3 separate regions of the Homo sapiens genome follow, and regions 2 and 3 are each linked to region 1. The links come from fine-mapping of genetic effects on gene expression. A gene starts in region 1. Each other region holds a variant in brackets. All regions are shown on one strand. Distances are between the middles of the regions.

What was found.
Region 2: its variant is fine-mapped to the expression of DRAM1 in whole blood (GTEx, PIP 0.97).
Region 3: its variant is fine-mapped to the expression of DRAM1 in whole blood (TOPMed, PIP above 0.99).

Annotation. Positions count from the first base shown.
Region 1 is chr12:101,875,151-101,881,187 of GRCh38, forward strand. It overlaps DRAM1 (DNA damage regulated autophagy modulator 1), which reads left to right and starts at 2,430. Exons shown (of 7, transcript NM_018370.3): 1 at 2,430-2,770. The coding sequence starts at 2,640. RefSeq lists enhancers at 1,834-2,616, 2,407-2,456, 2,617-3,398, 3,037-3,126, 3,267-3,316 and silencers at 2,067-2,226, 2,477-2,816.
Region 2 is chr12:101,925,750-101,931,786 of GRCh38, forward strand. No RefSeq gene overlaps it. Among named protein-coding and RNA genes, the nearest start is that of DRAM1-AS1, 35 kb to the right of the region's middle. RefSeq lists a silencer at 4,643-4,692 and enhancers at 4,903-4,982, 5,802-5,921. The variant T/C (reference allele first, on the strand shown) is at 2,512.
Region 3 is chr12:101,912,028-101,918,064 of GRCh38, forward strand. DRAM1 (DNA damage regulated autophagy modulator 1) reads left to right here. Exons shown (of 7, transcript NM_018370.3): 5 at 2,147-2,205. Among named protein-coding and RNA genes, the nearest start is that of DRAM1, 37 kb to the left of the region's middle. The variant G/A (reference allele first, on the strand shown) is at 3,620.

The DNA.
Region 1 (6,037 bases):
AGGTCATGTGCCTGCCTCAACCTCCTAAAGTGCTGGGATTACATTGCACCTGACCATTTTTAAATTTTTATTTGTTTTTGAAATAGAGTCTCGATCTGTGATCCAGGCTGGAGTTCAGTGGTGTGATCATAGCTCACTGCAGCCTCAAACTCCGGGCTCAAGTGAGCCTCCCACGTAAGCCTCTCATGTAGCTGGAACCACAGGTTATGCAACACCACACCCAGCTAATTTTTAAATTTTTTGTAGATATGGTTGCGGGTCTCACTATATTGTCCAGGCTTCGGCCTCCCAAAGCGCCGGGATTACAGAACTGTGAGCTACCATGCCTGGCCAGCTTTTGTGGTTTTTAAAAAGCCTTATTTTAAATTTTCTATTTTGTTTTGTATGGCGGGCACTCACTCCACGGCCACAGTGATCTCTTGAAATACTAGTCTGCCCATGTTCTTACTTTCTCCTTAATACCAAAAATAATCCAAGATTCTCAGCAGGACTCTGGTGACTTTGCCTCTTTGTTTCTCTCTCCATTTGCTGCCTCACACTTATTTAAGTGCTTTCATAGTCCCAGGGAAGCAAGCTCTGTGTATGCATTTCCTCCAGTTGTTTTCTGGGCCTGGAATGCTAATCTTATTTTTCTTTGCCTGGTTAGTAATTACTTCCTTTTGAAAACTCTGATGTCATCTGTCAGAAAACCTCCGTGGTCCTTCCTCTGAGCCCAGGCCCCTGGCCCTCAGCTCTGGGCATGTCTCTACTTTTTAAAATCCTCTCCTTTCCATTTAATAAACCACATAACATAATTTTGTTTTTATTTATTTATATTTTTGAGACAGAGTCTCGTTCTCTCACCCAGGCTGAAATGCAGTGGTGTGATCTCAGCTCACTGAGAAAACCTCCATTTCCCAGGTTCAAGCGATTCTCCTGCCTCAGCCTCCTGAGTAGCTGGGATTACAGGCGTGAGCCATGATGCCTGACTAATTTTTTGTATTTTTAGTAGAGATGGGGTTTCACCATGTTGGCCAGGCTGGTCTCGAACTCCTGACCTCAGGTGATCCACCCACCTTGGCCTCCCAAAGTGCTAGGATTACAGGCATGAGCCACCACGCCTGGCCTAATTTTGTTATTTTGATCTATGAGTGTCCTCGTCCTGAGGGTACTATTACTATTTCATCTTTGTAGCCTAGCATGGCGCCCATGAAATGTGTTTGTGGCTGAAAGGAACCTATCTTTGGTCACCAATGACCCAACAATTTTGGCCACATATGTTGGGCTCAGACTCCCTAAACTATCAAAATCATGTGCTTATATTATAAGTGCCTCCAGAACACAAATCCCTTTCACAGGGCTTGAAATGTATCAAGTCACTATTAATCATCTTAGGCCAAGGCTCCGAGTCTGGGCTACTCCAGAACCTGGAGGGGAGTTTTTTTTGTTTTTTTTTTGTTTGTTTGTTTTTTGAGACAAGGTCTTGCTCTGTCACCCAGGCCGAGTGAAGTGGTGTGATAAAGGCTCACTGCAGCCTCGACCCCCAAGGCTCAAGTGATCATCCCAACTCAGTCTCCCGAGTAACTGGAACCGGCTTTTTTTCTTTTTCATTTTTTTTTTTTTTTTTTGTAGAAGAGGGGTTTCGCTATGTTACCCAGGCTGATCTCTAGTTCTTGGGTTCAAGCGATCCTCCCAACTCGGCCTCCCAAAGTGGTGGCATTCCAGGGGTGATGGCTTTTGGATGCCTCCCAAAGTGATGGCTATTCACGGCGCCCGGCCTGGGAAATCTTATTTCCAGGAAATATTCTCCAGTTGCGCTCTCCTGGAAAGCAGCACAATGGGCCTCCCGGCTCCGTGGGCGCGCAGTCCCACCCGCCTGCCCCGCACCCCACCCGCGTACTCTCCACCCCACCCGTTCCCACCCTGTCTGGGTTTTCGGGTGTTCACCATTGAGGTGGGAGCCACATCTGCGCCCCGTGACCTGGCGAACCTCATTGAACACTTCTGCCCGACCCCCGCAGCAGCAGCGCGACCGGATGGCATGGGTGTCACCACGCGGTGGCCACTCTCACTGCTGCGAAGCGCCGGCGGCGGGACCTCGGAGGGGGCGCCCTCGGGGTGCGAGGCCCGGCACTCCGGAAATCCCCCGGGAGGGAGGGGTTGGGAGAAATAAATCCTTTTCTCCAGAGTTGCGCAAGAGCCAGCGCGGTAGGGCCAGAGTGGGAAGGCCAGAGCGGGCGTCCCCGCCAGTGACCCCACGCCGCCCGTCCGCGCCCAACCCGGCCTCCGCCGAGTGTCCAAACCAAAAGCGAAAGGAACCCGACCCCGCGTCCCCTCCGGCGGCTCCGTAGTCGCGTCCGCTTGGAGCTCGCCGGGCGCCTCCGACCCTGCCGGGCCGCTTTGTGACTTCACTCGTTTCGCAACAAGCCCGGGCAGCCCGCGCCCCACCCACTCTGGCCCGGCAGCCTCGCCGCCCGCAGCCTCGCTCCGCTCCTCGCGCTTCCCCTCCCTCCGGGGCTGGGCCTGCCCCGGCCGTCGCGGAGCCTCCCCTCCCACCGTCCGTGAGTGTACGCGCCCGGCCGCCGCCTCCAGGCAGCCCGGAGCAACCCGGCGCCCGGCCCCGCTGGGCGCAGCACTCCGTCGGCGGCGGCGGCGGCGCGATGCTGTGCTTCCTGAGGGGAATGGCTTTCGTCCCCTTCCTCTTGGTGACCTGGTCGTCAGCCGCCTTCATTATCTCCTACGTGGTCGCCGTGCTCTCCGGGCACGTCAACCCCTTCCTCCCGTATATCAGGTGAGTGGCAGGGTGGGCGTCAGGGCCCCAGGAGCAGGCACAGGGACCACAGGGAGCGCTGCCGACGGGGAGGGAAGGCGTCCGGACCCAGCTTGGGGCGTCGTGTGGTCAGGCAGAGGTGGGAGCAGGAGGAGAGGTGCTCCCGATAGCCTGGGATGTTTAGGGAGGCAGCGGGTGCGGCGCTGAGCACTTCTGCCTGTACCCGGAGCATGGAACAGGGTGGCAGCAAGGAGAGGTTCAGGATAGATGGTAGAGCTTTCATTCTGGGTATGGGACAGAATCTCAGCAGGACGTTCTTAGGCGATATTGAAACAAGATGGGTTCTGATAGATGACATATATTATACAAGAGGTAGATCCAGGTATATGCTAAACAGCCACTATTTTCACTTCTGCATCCCAACATCCCTTGAAGTGGATGTTTGGGCTTATTATTCCCGCAAGCGAGCGGTGGTGTAAAGTTGATGAAATATCATCAACGTGACACTGATGTCACACTAGTTAATGGTAGGAGCAGAATTCACACCCGGCCATGCAGAAAGCAACACTGTGCTGCCCCCAGGTCTCTGGGAGTCTGGCTTAAATTCTCTGGAGCTGCACCAGACACCTCTGGGCACTGTGACCCCAAAGTCCTCAACTTGTCAACAACTTGTGACATCTTTTGTGTTATTTTACCCATTCACTTTTCCTGTGCTTTGGCCTCTACCTTCCTGAGGGGCACTTCAGTGCCAGGGACAGTGGTCTGATCCTCCTATGTGGGTTCCAGCTCAGTGCCTTTCTCATAGTGGCAGGATTCTTTAAACGTTAGAACCATCCATCCTTATCTAAGTAGTGTGACCCCTCTGGACAGGCATTGGTTGGTGAACGGATGATAAGGTTGGTGACACCCAAGGTTTGTTACTGCTATGATAGAAAATGTAGGGCGTCTTCTTCCCTGCAGCCATTCTGTCTGGTGAGCAATGTTCTGTGTTTTTTTGTTTGTTTGTTTGTTTTTTTCCTTTTTTTGGGGGTGGGGGTGAGGAGTGTGGAGAAAGGGGAAACAAAGATCGAGCAAGAGGGGACTAGCATTTTTTAAAATTTTTTTTATTTTTTTGAGACAGAGTCTTGTTCTGTCGCCCAGGCTGGAGTGCAGTGACACAATCTCGGCTCACCGCAACCTCTGCCTCCCGGGTTCAAGCGATTCTCCTGCCTCAGCCTCCCAAGTAGCTGAGATTACAGGCGTGCACCACCACACCTGGCTTAATTTTTTTGTATTTTTAGTAGAGACAGGGTTTCACTATGTTGGTCAGGCTGGTCTCAAATTCCTGACCTCAAGTGATCCTCTTGCCTTGGCCTCCCAAAATGCTAGGATTACAGGTGTGAGCCAGTGTTCCCAGGGAACCAGCATTTACAAGATGCAGGGAATACAGCAATAGGTAGAATAGTGCAAATTTGCAGTAATGATGGTGGTTTTTGCCTATGAAAGGAGATGTTATGTATATCAAGATGTTCTCATCTGGCCTTTCGGTTTTTTCCATTTATTGTTATTATTTTTTATTTTCAGTAGAGACAAAGTCTCACTATATTGCCCAGGCTGGTCTTAAACTCCTGGGCTCAAGCATTCCCCTTGCTTTGGCCTCCCAGAGTGTTGGGATTACAGGCGTGAGCCACCACGCCTGGCCCTCCCATCTGGTATTATGCTTGGAAGAAACCTAGGCTTGGTTTCTCATGGCACATCTCAGGCCCAAGTGCCATCATCTTGCTTCTGAAGCAGGATAGATCCTTCTAGACTTGTGTAAAAGTAAAGACCTGCTCAGCTGGGCACAGTGGCTCACGCCTGTAATCCCAGCACTTTGGGAGGCCGAGGCTGGCGGATCATGAGGTCAAGAGATCGAGACCATCCTGGCCAACATGGTAAAACCTCATCTCTACTAAAAATACAGAAATTAGCTGGGCGTGGTGGTGCACGCCTGTAGTCCCAGCTACTCGGGAGGCTGAGGCAGAATTGCTTGAACCCGGGAGGCAGAGGTTGCAGTGAGCCGAGACAGAGCTACTGCACTCCAGCCTGGTGACAGAGCGAGACTCCATCTCAGAAAAAAAAAAAAAAGGTAAAGAGCTGCTCTACCTGCAGTGCTGCTTCTTTTGTTTGTTTGTTTGTTTGTTTTTTCAGACAAAGTCTCGCTCTGTTGCCCAGTCTGTGGTGTGGTGGTGGGATCACAGCTCACTGCAGCCTCGACCTCCTGGGCTCCATTGATCCTCCCACCTCAGCCTCCTGAATAGCTGGGGACTGTAGATAGGCATGCACAACCATGCCCAGCTAATTTTTAATTTTTTTTTGTATTTGTAGAGATGGCATCTTGCTGTGTCCTGCAATGCTTCCTTTTTTTTTTTTTTTTTTTTTTTTTTTAAGACAGAGTCTTGCTCTGTCGCCCAGGCTGGAGTGCAATGGTGCAATCTCGGCTCAGTGCAACCTCCACCTCCTGGTTCAAGCAATTCTCCTGACTCAGCCTCCCAAGTAGCTGGGATTACAGGCACCTGCCACCACGCCCAGCTAATATTTTTGTATTTTTAGTAGAGACGGGGTTTCACCATGTTGGCCAGGCTGGTCTCAAGCTCCTGACCTCAGATGATCCACCTGCCTCAGCCTCCTAAAGTGTTGGGATTACAGGCGTGAGCCACCACACCCAGCCTGCAGTGCTTCTTATTGAGAAAACAGTAGTCATGTTTGTCCCAGATCTGAAGGTTGAGGACAGATAATACGTGATATTCATTGGCCAGGCTGTCAAAGGCAGGTTTTGAATGTTCATAGAGGTGTCTGATGTAGTTGTGATTAATATCACTCTAAGGTGAACTTGAAATGGGAGACATTCAGAAATGGGAAAATAAGCTGACAAGGTGAACCACTTATGAGATGCTCAAATCACAGACCCTACAAGGAAGGGGTTTAAAATTTAACAAGGAAGCCTTCAGGAAAAGCAGAATTACAGGAGAAAAAGGCATGCCCCCTTGTTGCCAGGAGTTCTCAGCCAACACACAACAAACATTTGTACTGATTGCCCATGTGTGCCTGGGTCTTTTAGGTTGTTTGCTCTCTGCTTACCTGAGCAGCCGGAGCACTGGATTGCCCCTGCCCGCTCCTAGAAAACAAGTCCTTGGTGCAGCAACAAGATGTGGATAAGAACCACACATAGAGAAGAAGGCTGGGTGCAGTCTCTACTAAAAATATATAAAATTAGCTGAGCGTGGTGGCACATTCCTGTGATCCCAGCTACTCAGGAGGCTGAGGCAT
Region 2 (6,037 bases), 51 kb after region 1:
AATGGCGTGATCTCGGCTCACAGCAACCTCTGCCTCCCGGGTTCAAGCGATTCTCCTGCCTCAGCCTCCCAAGTAGCTGGAATTACAGGCGCATGCCACCACGCCCAGCTAATTTTTGTATTTGTAGTAGAGACAGGGTTTCACCATGTTGGCCAGGCTGGTCTCAAACTCCTGACCCCAGGTGATGCACCCATCTTGGCTCCCCAAAGTGCTGGGATTACAGGCGTGAGCCACTGCGCCCGGCCCCAGATTCATCTTCTAAAATGAAGGGTAGCAGTTTTCCAGACCCATGTTGGAGGTGGCAGTGACCTCCAGAGTCCATGCTTGGAAAATGCTGAGGAAGATGTCAACAATCTGCCTTGTGGTTTAAGACGGGGTGGCGTGGGGTGCCTGGAAAGCCTGTGGTTTAGGTAGTTCCTCAGCAAGGAGCACTGCTCTGTGCCCCACCATCCTCAAGGCCAGTTCCACCTCTGGACGACTCAGTTACATGAGCTGATAAAGTCTCTAACTTCAATAAACTGGAGTTAGACTTCAGATGATTTTACCTGTAAGAGTCCTGACTGATAATGGATACACAAGAGTTCCCCTAATATGAAAATACAGTAAACAACTATCATCTAGAGTCATTTTTATTTCATTTTTTTCTTTTGCATTTTTTTTTCAGTACAGACTTGCCTTCACAGGAAAGATCATTTTTATATAAGTGGATTCAGCTGCCCCCACTCACAACCCTCACCCCCTGAACCATTTATTTCAAAAAATTTGAGTAATATTTTCACAATTCAAAACTCAAAACAATATGAAAAGGTATACTGTGAAAAGCCTTTTTGCTTTTCCCTACCTGCATTTACTCAATTCACTCTCTCCTTGCAGATATCCACTTTTTTTTTTTTTTTTTTTTTTTTAACGACAGAGCCTTGCTCTGTCGCCCAGGCTGAAGTGGAGTAGCATGATCTCAGCTCACTGCAACCTATGCCTCCTGGGTTCAAGCAGTTCTCCCTGCCTCAGCTTCCCAAGTAGCTGGTATTACAGGTGCCCACCACCACACCCAGCTAACTTTTGTATTTTAGTTGAGACAGGGTTTCACCATGTTGGTCAACTCCTGACCTCAAGTGATCCGCCTGCCTTGGCCTCCCAAAGTGCTGAGATTACAGGTGTGAGCCACTGTGCTCAGCCTAGGTATCCACTTTTTATCAGATTTTTATGAAAATACAAGCCAAAACAAATATTTTAACGTTTTCCTTTTCATTTTCACCCCAAATTAGTATACTGTAAGAACAGTTTTGAGCCTTACTTTTTTGACATAGCAATGTATCTTGGAGATGTTTCCTTTATCAATACATAGAGATCTCCCTCATTTTTAAGGTTAATTTGCTTTGTTTTATACCTTACAGTATTCCATTGTATGGCTGTGCCATCATTTATTTAGCAAGTTCCCTATCTGATGAGCAATTATGTGGTTTCCAAATTTTTGCAATTACAAGTAGATGACCTTGTACATACATCATATCACACATGTGCAAGGAAATCTCTAGGACAAATTCCAGTGAGTGGGATGTTGGAAACTTCATCTGTTATTTTGCAAATGTTATCTTGCCTTTAGAACTTTTTTACTTGAATATTTTTGTTAGGAACCTCTTTTTCTTTTTTGTTTCTTTCTTTTTTTTTTTTTTTAAAGGCTGGTCAAGTGCAGCAGTGAGAGTGGAGAAGGAAGAAAAAAATCTGTAACTGGGCTGGGCATGGTGGCTCACGCGTGTGATCCCAACATTTTGGGAGGCTGAGGCGGGTAGATCATTTGAGTCTAGGAGTTCAAGACCAGCCTAAGTAACATAGCAAGACCCCATCTCTACAAAAAAATTTAAAAAATTAGCCAAGAATGGTGGTGCAAGCTGTGGTCTCAGCTACTCAGGAGGCAAGAGGGGGGTATCGCTTGAGCCTGGGGAGGCAGAGGTTGCAGTGAGCAGAGATCGTGCCACTGCACTCCAATCTAGGCTATAGAACGAGACTTTGTCTCAAAGAAAACTAAACTAAAATAAATAAATCTGTAACTGGTTGCGATCAATTAGTTGTAAACACCACTGCACTCGGACAAGCCAGGAATCTTTGTGATTACACACATTTTCTTCTAACCTGAGGATGCTGAATATAAGTTCATGTTTCCTTGGTGACTCAGTCATCCATGACTGTAGATCAGGTGCAAATGTGGATTTTGCAGTAGATGGTGTGGGACAGAGGCCTGCCAACTTGGTCACGGGTCTTCTACACACACCTCTTCTGTTCCCTCTTTTATGTAACCACCTACTGCAGGGAATGCAAGGCTGTGTGCTCCTCTTTCTGCTGACAGCAGAACTCACCTATCTTCTGCCTCCTACCCCAACCCGGACATGTCTTCTTTTTATGGGCAAGAGTGTCTCCAGTTCACTTGGGTTTTTCATTATGATCTTGCAAACTTTTGCAATTAGTTGCAAAAGTTTTGTCAATGCCTCTTCCAGTTTGTACTCACTTCCTTTT[T/C]GGTATCTCGCTGAAGTCCTGTTACTTGTCTTACACTTCTTCCCTATCTTTTGAGAGGATGTATTTTTGTTGTTGTTGTTGTTGTTTTGTTTGTTTGTTTTAAATTTTGAGATGGAGTCTCGCTCTGTCACCAGGCTAAAGTGCAGTGGTGCGAGCTTGGCTCACTGCAACTTCGCCTCTCGGGTTCAAGTGATTCTCCTGCCTGAGCCTCCCGAGTAGCTGGGACGACAGGCGTGTGCCACCACGCCCAGCTAAGCTTTATATTTTTAGTAGAGACGGGGTTTCATCATGTTGGCTAGGATGGTCTTGATCTCTTGACCTCATGGTCCGCCCACTTCGGCCTCCCAAAGTGCTAGGATTACAGGCGTGAGCGACCATGCCCAGCTGGAGACGATTGTATTTTTACAGACATCAACAATCAAGCACAATATTCTCTCCTCTCTGGCAAAGTGATCCAGGACAGAACACCAGGGGCAACCCACAGACCTTTTGATCCTCCCTGACCTTGTAGCTTGGTGGTTACTGCAGAATGACTCAATGAGTGGGGGACACCAGCAATTCAGTAGTCAGAGAGAGAGAGAGAGAGAGAGAGGAAAGAAACTTTACCTTTGAGAAACTTAAAAATTGACTTGGAAATAATCAGCTTTATGTTTGCCTAAATGTATCCTTTATGTCATTTGGAAAAAGAAAATATTATTTGGAATTACCTATGGGGAGGCATCATAATTTTTTCAGTACCAGGTATTCAGGGACTTTCACCTAAAAACTAAGGATATTTCTTCATCTGCTTACATGATCACTTATGTTCTGTTAATACTGATTATTTCCTATATCACAGACACTGTAAGGAGGGCGTTTCCTCATAGTTAACCCTATTTTATTCATGAGGAAATTAAGATGTAGCGAGGTTGTCACCAGATACCAAATGATGGGGCTAGAACCAAACCCAGGACTGTGACTCCTACGGTTAACCTTTGCCATGCTGACAGTGTGATTCCCAGTCACTGCCTTAGGAGTATGAATTAATTTGTCAGCTTTTCTAGGGTTATATAATATAAGGCCTTGAGAAATGAAACCCTTAAGCTGGCAAGTTTAGAAAAATGGGTGAAATGTTTGGATTGCCACTTCAAAACGGCAGGTCCTGGTTGAAGTCTGGGCATCTAAGAATTGTGGGGGTGGGAGCAGGTGATAGGAATCAGGAGTAGAAACAGTAAGAGAGGGTTTGTATGATACACCTGGTCTTTGGTGGGAATGGGGATCAGTTCTTGTATGAGTCAGTTCTCACGCTGCTAATAAAGACGTACCAGAGACTGGGTAATTTATAAAGAAAAGAGCTTTAATTGGCTTACAGTTTCACATGGCTAGGGAGGCCTCAGGAAACTTATAATCACGGCGAAAGGGGAAGCAAACACATCCTTCTTCACATGGTGGCAGGAGAGAGAATGAGAGCCGAGCAAAGGGGGGGATGCCCCTTATAAAACCCCCACATCTCGTGTGAACTCAGTATCACAAGAACAGTATGGGGGAAACCGCCCTCATGATTCAATTATCTCCACCTGGGCCCCCCTTGACACGTGGGGATTATTACAATTCAAGATGAGATTTTAGGTGGGGACATAGCCAAGCCATATCAGTTCTCCTGCAACCACCACAGCCTGAGGAGGAGCACTGAAGAGGCCAAGGATTCCACTGCGCAGTGAGACAGGGTGCAGCAGGCTTTCAGTACGATTCAGGCTCTGGTGGCTGTGAGGTGTGGGTTCTTATGACTCTCAACTCCTGGTATCTTTTGCTTCTGGATGGTGCGGTAAGAGGGACTGGGGGTTGTCGTCCGTCTGTCTGGACTTCCCAAAGGAGAAGTCATGGTGAGGCCCAGGGAAAGGACCATCTAGGCTATCACAGGGCTGGGTAAAAGAAGTCCTCAGTGCTCACTTTTTAAAAAAGTTATTTTAATTTATTACTATTATCATTTTATTATTATGTTTGAACACTCTTGGTGACCATTATTATTACTTTACTGTGGTAAAATATAACATAAATTTTATCATCTTGGTGATTTTTTTTTTTTGAGACAGATCTCACTCTGCCACCCAGACTGGAGTGCAGTGGTGTGATCTTGGCTCACTGCAGCCTCAACCTCTGGGCTCAAGTGATCCTCCCACCTCAGCCTCCCAAGTAGCTGGGACTACAGGTGTGCACCACCGTGCTTGGCTAATTTTTGTATTTTTTGTAGCGATAGGGTCTCACTATGTTGCCTAGGCTGGCCTCAAACTCCTGGACTCAAGAGATCCTTTTGTCTGGGCCTCCCAAAGTGTTAGGATTATAGGCGTGAGCCACCACCACGCACGCCTGGCCGTCGTAGCCATTTTTAAGTGTGCAGTTCAGTGGTTTTGAATACATTCATAATGTTGTGCAACCATCACCACCATCCATCTCCAGAACCCTCTTCATCTTGTAAAACTGAAACTCTGTGCCCATTGAACAATAACTCCTGATTCCCTCTTGCCCCAGCCCCTGGCAACCATTATTCTACTTTCTGGCTCTATGATTTTGACTATTCTAGATACCTCATATAAGTGGAATCATACAGCATTTCTCTTTTTGTGACTGGCTTATTTCATTTAGCGTAATGTCTCAGCACCATCCATGTTGTAGCATGTGTTGGAATTTTTTCCATATTAAGGCTTAGTAAGATTCCATTGTACATTTATACCCACTTTGTTTACCAATCATCTGTTGATGGACACTTCAGTTGCTTCCACATTGTGAATAATGCTGCTACAAACATGTGTGTACAAATATTTCTTTGAGACCCTGCTTTAAATTCTTCTGGGTATATACCAAGAAGTGGGATTGCTGGATCATATGGAAATTCTATTTTTAATTTTTTGAGGAACCACCATACTGTTTTCCATAGCAGCTGTACCATTTTACAGTCCCACCAACAGTGCACAAGGATTCTAATTTCTTCACATCCTCGCCAACATTTGTTTTTTCCTATTTATTTATTTATTTGAGATTTGAGGGTCTTGGTATGTTACCCACGCTGGCCTCCAATTCCTTGGCTCAAGAGATCCTCATGCCTCAGCCTCTAAAGTAGCTGGGATTACAGGCACAAACCATAGCACCTGACATATTTTCCATTTTTTTGGTTAGTAGCCTTCCTAATGGGTGTGAGGTGATATCTCATAGTATTTTGGTTTGCATTTCCCTAAGAATTAATGATGTTGGTCATTTTTTCATGTGCTTATTGGTCACCTATATATCTTCTTTGGAGAAACATCTGTTCAGTTCGTTTTTGAATTGGGTTGTTTTCCTCAGTCCTCAGTCTTGTCACATGTATGGATGTGATATCAGATCAGCAGCATGTAAGTTAGTCTTCTTGGAGCTGAAGCAGCAGCAGGAAGTGGTGAGGACTCTGGCTCCTGGGTTCCAGCTCTCTTGCTCTCCCTTGCTCATCAGGCTAATATCAGCATGAGTGACAGGAAAGCCTGGAAGACTAACTTCACCTTCTTTAACAATCCTTTTA
Region 3 (6,037 bases), 37 kb after region 1:
ATCTCTACTAAAAATAGAAAAACTAGCCAGGTGTGGTGGTGGGCACCTGTAATCCCAGCTGCTGAGGAGGCTGAGGCAGGAGAATCGCTTGAACCCAGGAGGTGGAGGTTGCAGGTGAGCTGAGATCACACCACTGCACTCCAGCCTGAGTGAAAGAGCGAGACTCCATCTCAAATACATAAATAAATAAATAAATTTGGATATTAGAAAATTAAAAATTACACATATTTCTGTGGGATGGTGCTGCTCTAGAGAGCTCCTTAAACTTCACAACTTACATTAAGTTTCACTGAATGAAGCTTTCTCCCATTCCATTCTGAATTAATAATTTTCCCTTACAGTCATTGCTGTACCCAGTTCTTTTCTGTCTACTATGGTACATTCTCTGGGTCTGGTCCAACAAAGTTGTGATATTTCTGAGAGCTGAGACCAAGTTTTCCCTTCTCCCACCCCCAGACCAGAATGGTACCTGGTGCACTGAAGATGGAGCTAAGAATAAATAAACGAAATAATTAAGAGGCTTTTAAACTATTAGAAACAGATGTGAGGTGATGAAATGATCAGAGAATCTTCTGTGCTCTCTACTTCTTTTATTTTGAGAATCAGAAGCATTAAACTCTGCACAATTTGCGGGGGGTTGGAGTTAAGAGAGATGACGCTGACTCTGAATTCAGAGGAGGCTCTAAACTTTCCTTGGCTCAACATTTTTTTTTTTTTTTTTTTTGAGACAGAGTCTCACCCTGTTGCCCAGGTTGGAGTGCAGTGGTGCAAATTCAGCTCACTGCCACCTCCCAGGTTCAAGCGATTCTCCTGCTTCAGCCTCCCAGGTAGCTGGGATTACAGGTGCACGCCACCATGCCCAGCTAATTTTTGTGTTTTTAGTAGAGACTGGGTTTCACCATGTTGGTCAGACTAGTCTCGAACTCCTGACCTCAGGTGATTCGCCTGCCTCAGCCTCCCAAAGTGCTGGGATTACAGGTGTGAGCCACTGCGCCCGGCCTAACATTTTGAATTTCTAATATTTTGCAGACTTTTTAGAGCATCCCATTTCTCTCTAGCTTTCTTTTTTGCATTCTAAGTTCAATCAAAATGGTTATCACTGCCTTCATGCAGAAAGTATTGCTGGTGGAAGATAGGAGCCTCAGCCCCTGGCATTATTAGGCTGGACTGTAGGCATGTGTCAGTCATCCCTGAAGTCTGATATGGGGCGAATCTCTTTGATTTGCCAGATCTTTGGTCCAGGAAGGAAGGGCTCACCTTATACCCAATTACCCAACAGAAGTCTGTTTTTTAAAGATAATAGTTTGAGTTTCTGTAGCTTGTTTTTGTATATGAGCCTTGGCACTTTGGAATTTAAAATTTTCCTTAAAGCTGTTACCTTGGAAATAGTATTTTAGGCCGGGCACGGTGGCTCATGCCTGTAATCCCAGCACTTTGGGAGGCCGAGGTGGGCAGATCACCTGAGGTCAGGAGTTCAAGACCAGCCTGACCAACATGGAGAAACACCGTCTCTACTAAAAATACAAAAAATTAGCCAGGCATGGTGGTGGGTGCTTGTAATCCCAACTATTCAGGAGGCTGAGGCAGGAGAATGCTTGAACCCAGGAGGTGGAGGTTGCAGTGAGCTGAGATCGCGCCATTGCACTCCAGCCTGGGTGACAGAGCGAGAGTACGTCTCAAAAAAAAAAAAAAAAAAAAAAAGGAAAGGAAAATAGTATTTTAGGGAAAAAGTATTTTTATTCAGTGGGAAGTATTCAAAAAGAACCATCCTGGACTGCTGCGTCAGTCATTTTGACCGAATTTAAACAGCTAGTTTAAATGGGAAGATCCAGAAACATGTAGGGTTGTGCAAAATGTAGTGACAAGTTTTAATAAATTTTACTATACACACTGGAAAACTATTGCGAAGGTATTTCCGTGTTGTGATTTAACTCTCATCATTGAATTTGAAGTTTGAGTTTATAAGAAGCTAATATAACTGGTTTGATTGTAGAAATGTTGGTATTAACATTTTAATTGATGATAGAAATGTTGGTATTAACATTTTAACACCTTATAATGATTATGTTATTAGGAGAATAATGTAGTCTTAACATTAAAGGAACTGTTGTGTGCTGTAGTTTCCTTAACTGTTTACTTCTTTCAGTGATTGTCTGTGCTTCACTAATTTCCATAACCAAGCTGGAGTGGAATCCAAGAGAAAAGGTAACATTTAAGTTGTTGTGAATGTGGTTGTCGGACGTGGTTATGTGAGCTTGTGGCCAGGCTAGGCATAGGGAAGATCACTGCCGTTCCTTAGAACAAGTTGCAAAATGTCAAATAAACATGGCATGTAATCAATTTACTGTCCAATCATTTGGCAGTATGTAGTAATTAGCTATCAGGGTAATTCCAAATGCTTCCTGGAAGTATTTTCAAAATTTTGAGTTCCTAATTTCTTTCTTTCTTCTTCTTCTTCTTTTTTTTTTTTTTTGAGACAGAGTCTTGCTGTGTTGCCCAGGCTGGAATGCAGTGGTGCAATCTCAGCTTACTGCAACCTCTGTGTCCCAGGCTCAAGCGATTCTCCTGCCTCAGTCTCCCAAGTAGCTGGGACTACAGGCACCTGCCACAAGGCCCAGCTAATTTTTGATTTTGTTTTGTTCTTTTCTGAGACAGAGTCTCGCTCTGTCACCCAGGCTGGAGTGAAGTGGCGTGATCTCAGCTCACTGCAACCTTTGCCTCCTGGGTTCAAGTGATTCTTGTGCCTCAGCCTCCCGAGTAGCTGGGACCACAGGCGTGCGCCACATGCCTGGCTAATTTTTGTATTTTTAGTAGAGACAGGGTTTTTCCCATGTTGACCAGGCTGGTTTGGAGCTCCTGGCCTCAAGTGATCCCCCCGTCTCGGCCTCCCAAAGTGCTGGGATTATAGGCGTGACCCACCGCACCCGTCCCTCTAATTTCTTCCTTTTCTTTCTTTCTTTTTTTTTTTTTGAGACAGAGTCTCGTTCTGCCGCCCAGGCTGGAGTGCAGTGGCACAATCTTGACTCAGTGCAAGCTCTGCCTCCCGGGTTCATGCCATTCTCCTGCCTCAGCCTCCTGAGTAGCTGGGACTATAGGCGCCTGCCACCACCCCCGGCTACTTTTTTGTATTTTTAGTAGAGATGGGGTTTCACCGTATTAGCCAGGATGGTCTCGATCTCCTGACCTCGTGATCTGCCCACCTCGGCCTCCCAAAATGCTGGGATTACAGGTGTGAGCCACCGCACCTGGCCTTTAATTTCTTTCTTAAACACTTCAACTATCTATCTTTAGTAAAAGAGGGTAGAGGGACAGTGTGAATGAAGGTGTTTGGTGGTGAAAGGGAGCGTGGAATGTTAAGTAGAGAGGATGATACCAGCTCCAGTGTGGTGGATAGTTCATTTCAGGATAGAGTGAGAAATCACTGCAGCCGGGGATAACTGTGCAAGGGTGTAGTGGCTGTAAGAGGCAGGCAGAGAGGCTTGTACTTGGCCTAGGTGACCAGAGTAAGACTTTGAAGACTTTTTTTTTTTTTGAGACGGAGTTTCGCCCTTGTTGCCTAGGCTGGAGTGCAATGGCGCGATCTCGGCTCACTGCAACCTCTGCCTCTCAGGTTCAAGCA[G/A]TTCTCCTGTCTCAGCCTCCCAAATAGCTGGGATTACAGGCACTAGCTGGGATTACAGGCGTGCACCACCATGCCCAGCTAGTTTTTGTATTTTTAGTAGAGACGGGATTTCACCGTGTTAGCCAGGATGGTCTTGATCTCTGCACCTCGTGATCTGCCCTCCTTGGCCTCCTAAAGTGCTGGGATTACAGGCGTGAACCACCACGCCCAACCTGCAGACTTTCGAACGGTAAAGCAAATAGAAAGAGTATTATTAGATGAGTGTTAGACAGAAGCAATGCCTGGGATGGCTTGGAGAGCTTGGCATTAGGAGGGCAAGGAGAAGGCAGTTCTACTAGTTCACGTTTCAAATAGGGGAAATCTGATGGGTGTTGGCAAATGATTAACACAAGAATGAAGTGGCATGATGAATCAAAGATGACTTCTAAGTTTTTATCTTAGGTGAACCAAAGAATTTATTCCCTTGACCAGAAATAAGGCCCCTAACAGGGATAAATAATTTAGTAGGTGGAAGTGGATGAGTTTGGTTAGAGTTGATGATTCTGAGGATATGATGAGATATCGAGGTTAGAAACATGGGCCTAGGCCAGGTGCTGTGGTTCATGCCTGTAATCCCAGCACTTTGGGAGGCTGAGGCAGGAGGATTGCTTGAGTCCAGGAGATGAAGACCAGTCAGGGTAACACAGTAAGATCCTGCCTCTACAAAAATTAGCCAGACGTTGTGGCATGCGCCTGTAGTCCCAGCTACTTGGGAAGCTGAGGTGGAAGGATCACTTGCACTCCGGTGGGCCTAGACTTCTGGTGGGACTGGGAGTCGTCAGAGTGTAGGGTAGAGTTGTTAGAGTATGGGGTAGACCAGGACATTTTGGACCAAGCATCAGAACACATGGAACCAAATGTTTGACATTGAGATCAACCCATCCTGTTAGATACCTGTAGTAGTGGTTCATCTAGACGCCTTATAGGAGAATCAAGGATGCCCCAGGAAAGAAGAGAGTTAGTGAGAGACAGAGGATTCTTTCCCCCAAGGATCAGGTGGAAGAATACCTCCAGCAAAGGAGAAGTAAAGGGATCATGGACCAGAGAGAAGAACTAGACTTGTGCTGTATGGTAGACCTCATTGATGAGTCCCTACCACATGCAAGACTGTGAAAGATTATAGAGGGCAGGGTGGCCATGGGATAGAGGATCCTGAGGGATTTTATAGTTCAGAGGGGCAAACAGCCAGTTGTCAATGGCTAAATGTAATACTTTGAAGAATAAAAAAATGCTGAACTGGACTTCAGACAACACATTGTGGAAATGCAGAAGCAATAGCAATTAATCCTAACGATGGAATGAGAGGAGATACGATCCCAGAGACTAAAGGACATTTTTCAAAGGCAAGGGAAATGGCTAACTATGGCATATGCAGCTGAATAGCCTTTAGGAATGAAGTCCCTCAATTTGGGCAATAAGGGAGTCAGTGATGTTTGTCAAAAAGTAGTTTCAGTAAAACGCCGAGGTTAGAAGCCAATGGCAAGAAGTTAAATAGTGAGAGGGATGGTTCTTTCATTCAGCTATCAACCAAATGTTTATTGAGTCCTGTTCTGGACTGGAGGTAAGAGGTAAAGGAGGAACACCAGGGTGGCTAGAGGAGACAGCAGGATTTCCCAATATGGAGAACTCTGGCAGGTAATGGAAGCCTGCCAAGACAAGAGAGAGACAGAAGATGGTGAGGAAGAGAATGATCCAGACAGGAGATCAAAAAGTGCTTCTTGGCCGGGTGCGGTGGCTCAGGCCTGTAATTCCAACACTTTGGGAGGCCAAGGCGGGTGGATCACTTGAGGCTAGAGTTCAAAACTAGCCTGGCCAATATGGCGAAACCCTGTCTGTACTAAAAAAAAAAAAAATTTTTGGTGTAGTGGCACACACCTGTAGTCCCAGCTACTTGGGAGGCTGAGGCAGGAGAATTGCTTGTACCCAGGAGTTGGAGAGCTGGAGGCTGCAATGAGCCGAGATCATGCCAATGCACTCCAGCCTGTGCAACAAGAGTGAGACTCCATCTCAAAAAAAAAAAAAAAAGCCTTCTTTAAAATCTAACCTTAAAATGGTCAAATTCGTCAATAGGTTAGACCTAGGCAAAAGGCAGGTTTTTTTCTTTCTTATATATGGGGAATTAGCCCCATCATGCGAAGGGGGTTCAGTTCCTCTTTCCGTTGGAGAGAACCTCTTTCTGAAAGTGAGACCGCATAGCGGAGCAGTTCAGGTGTACTTTACTTTTCAGCCACTCGGGGGAGACCTTCTATCACAAACCCGCTGCTGGGAAGGGCTTATCGAAGTATATTCCCAGGCAGTTAAAAATCTGTTATATTCCACTTTCTATCTTAAAAATGTGAAAAGCACATGGTTTTCTATTCACTCCATAAATGACTGCGC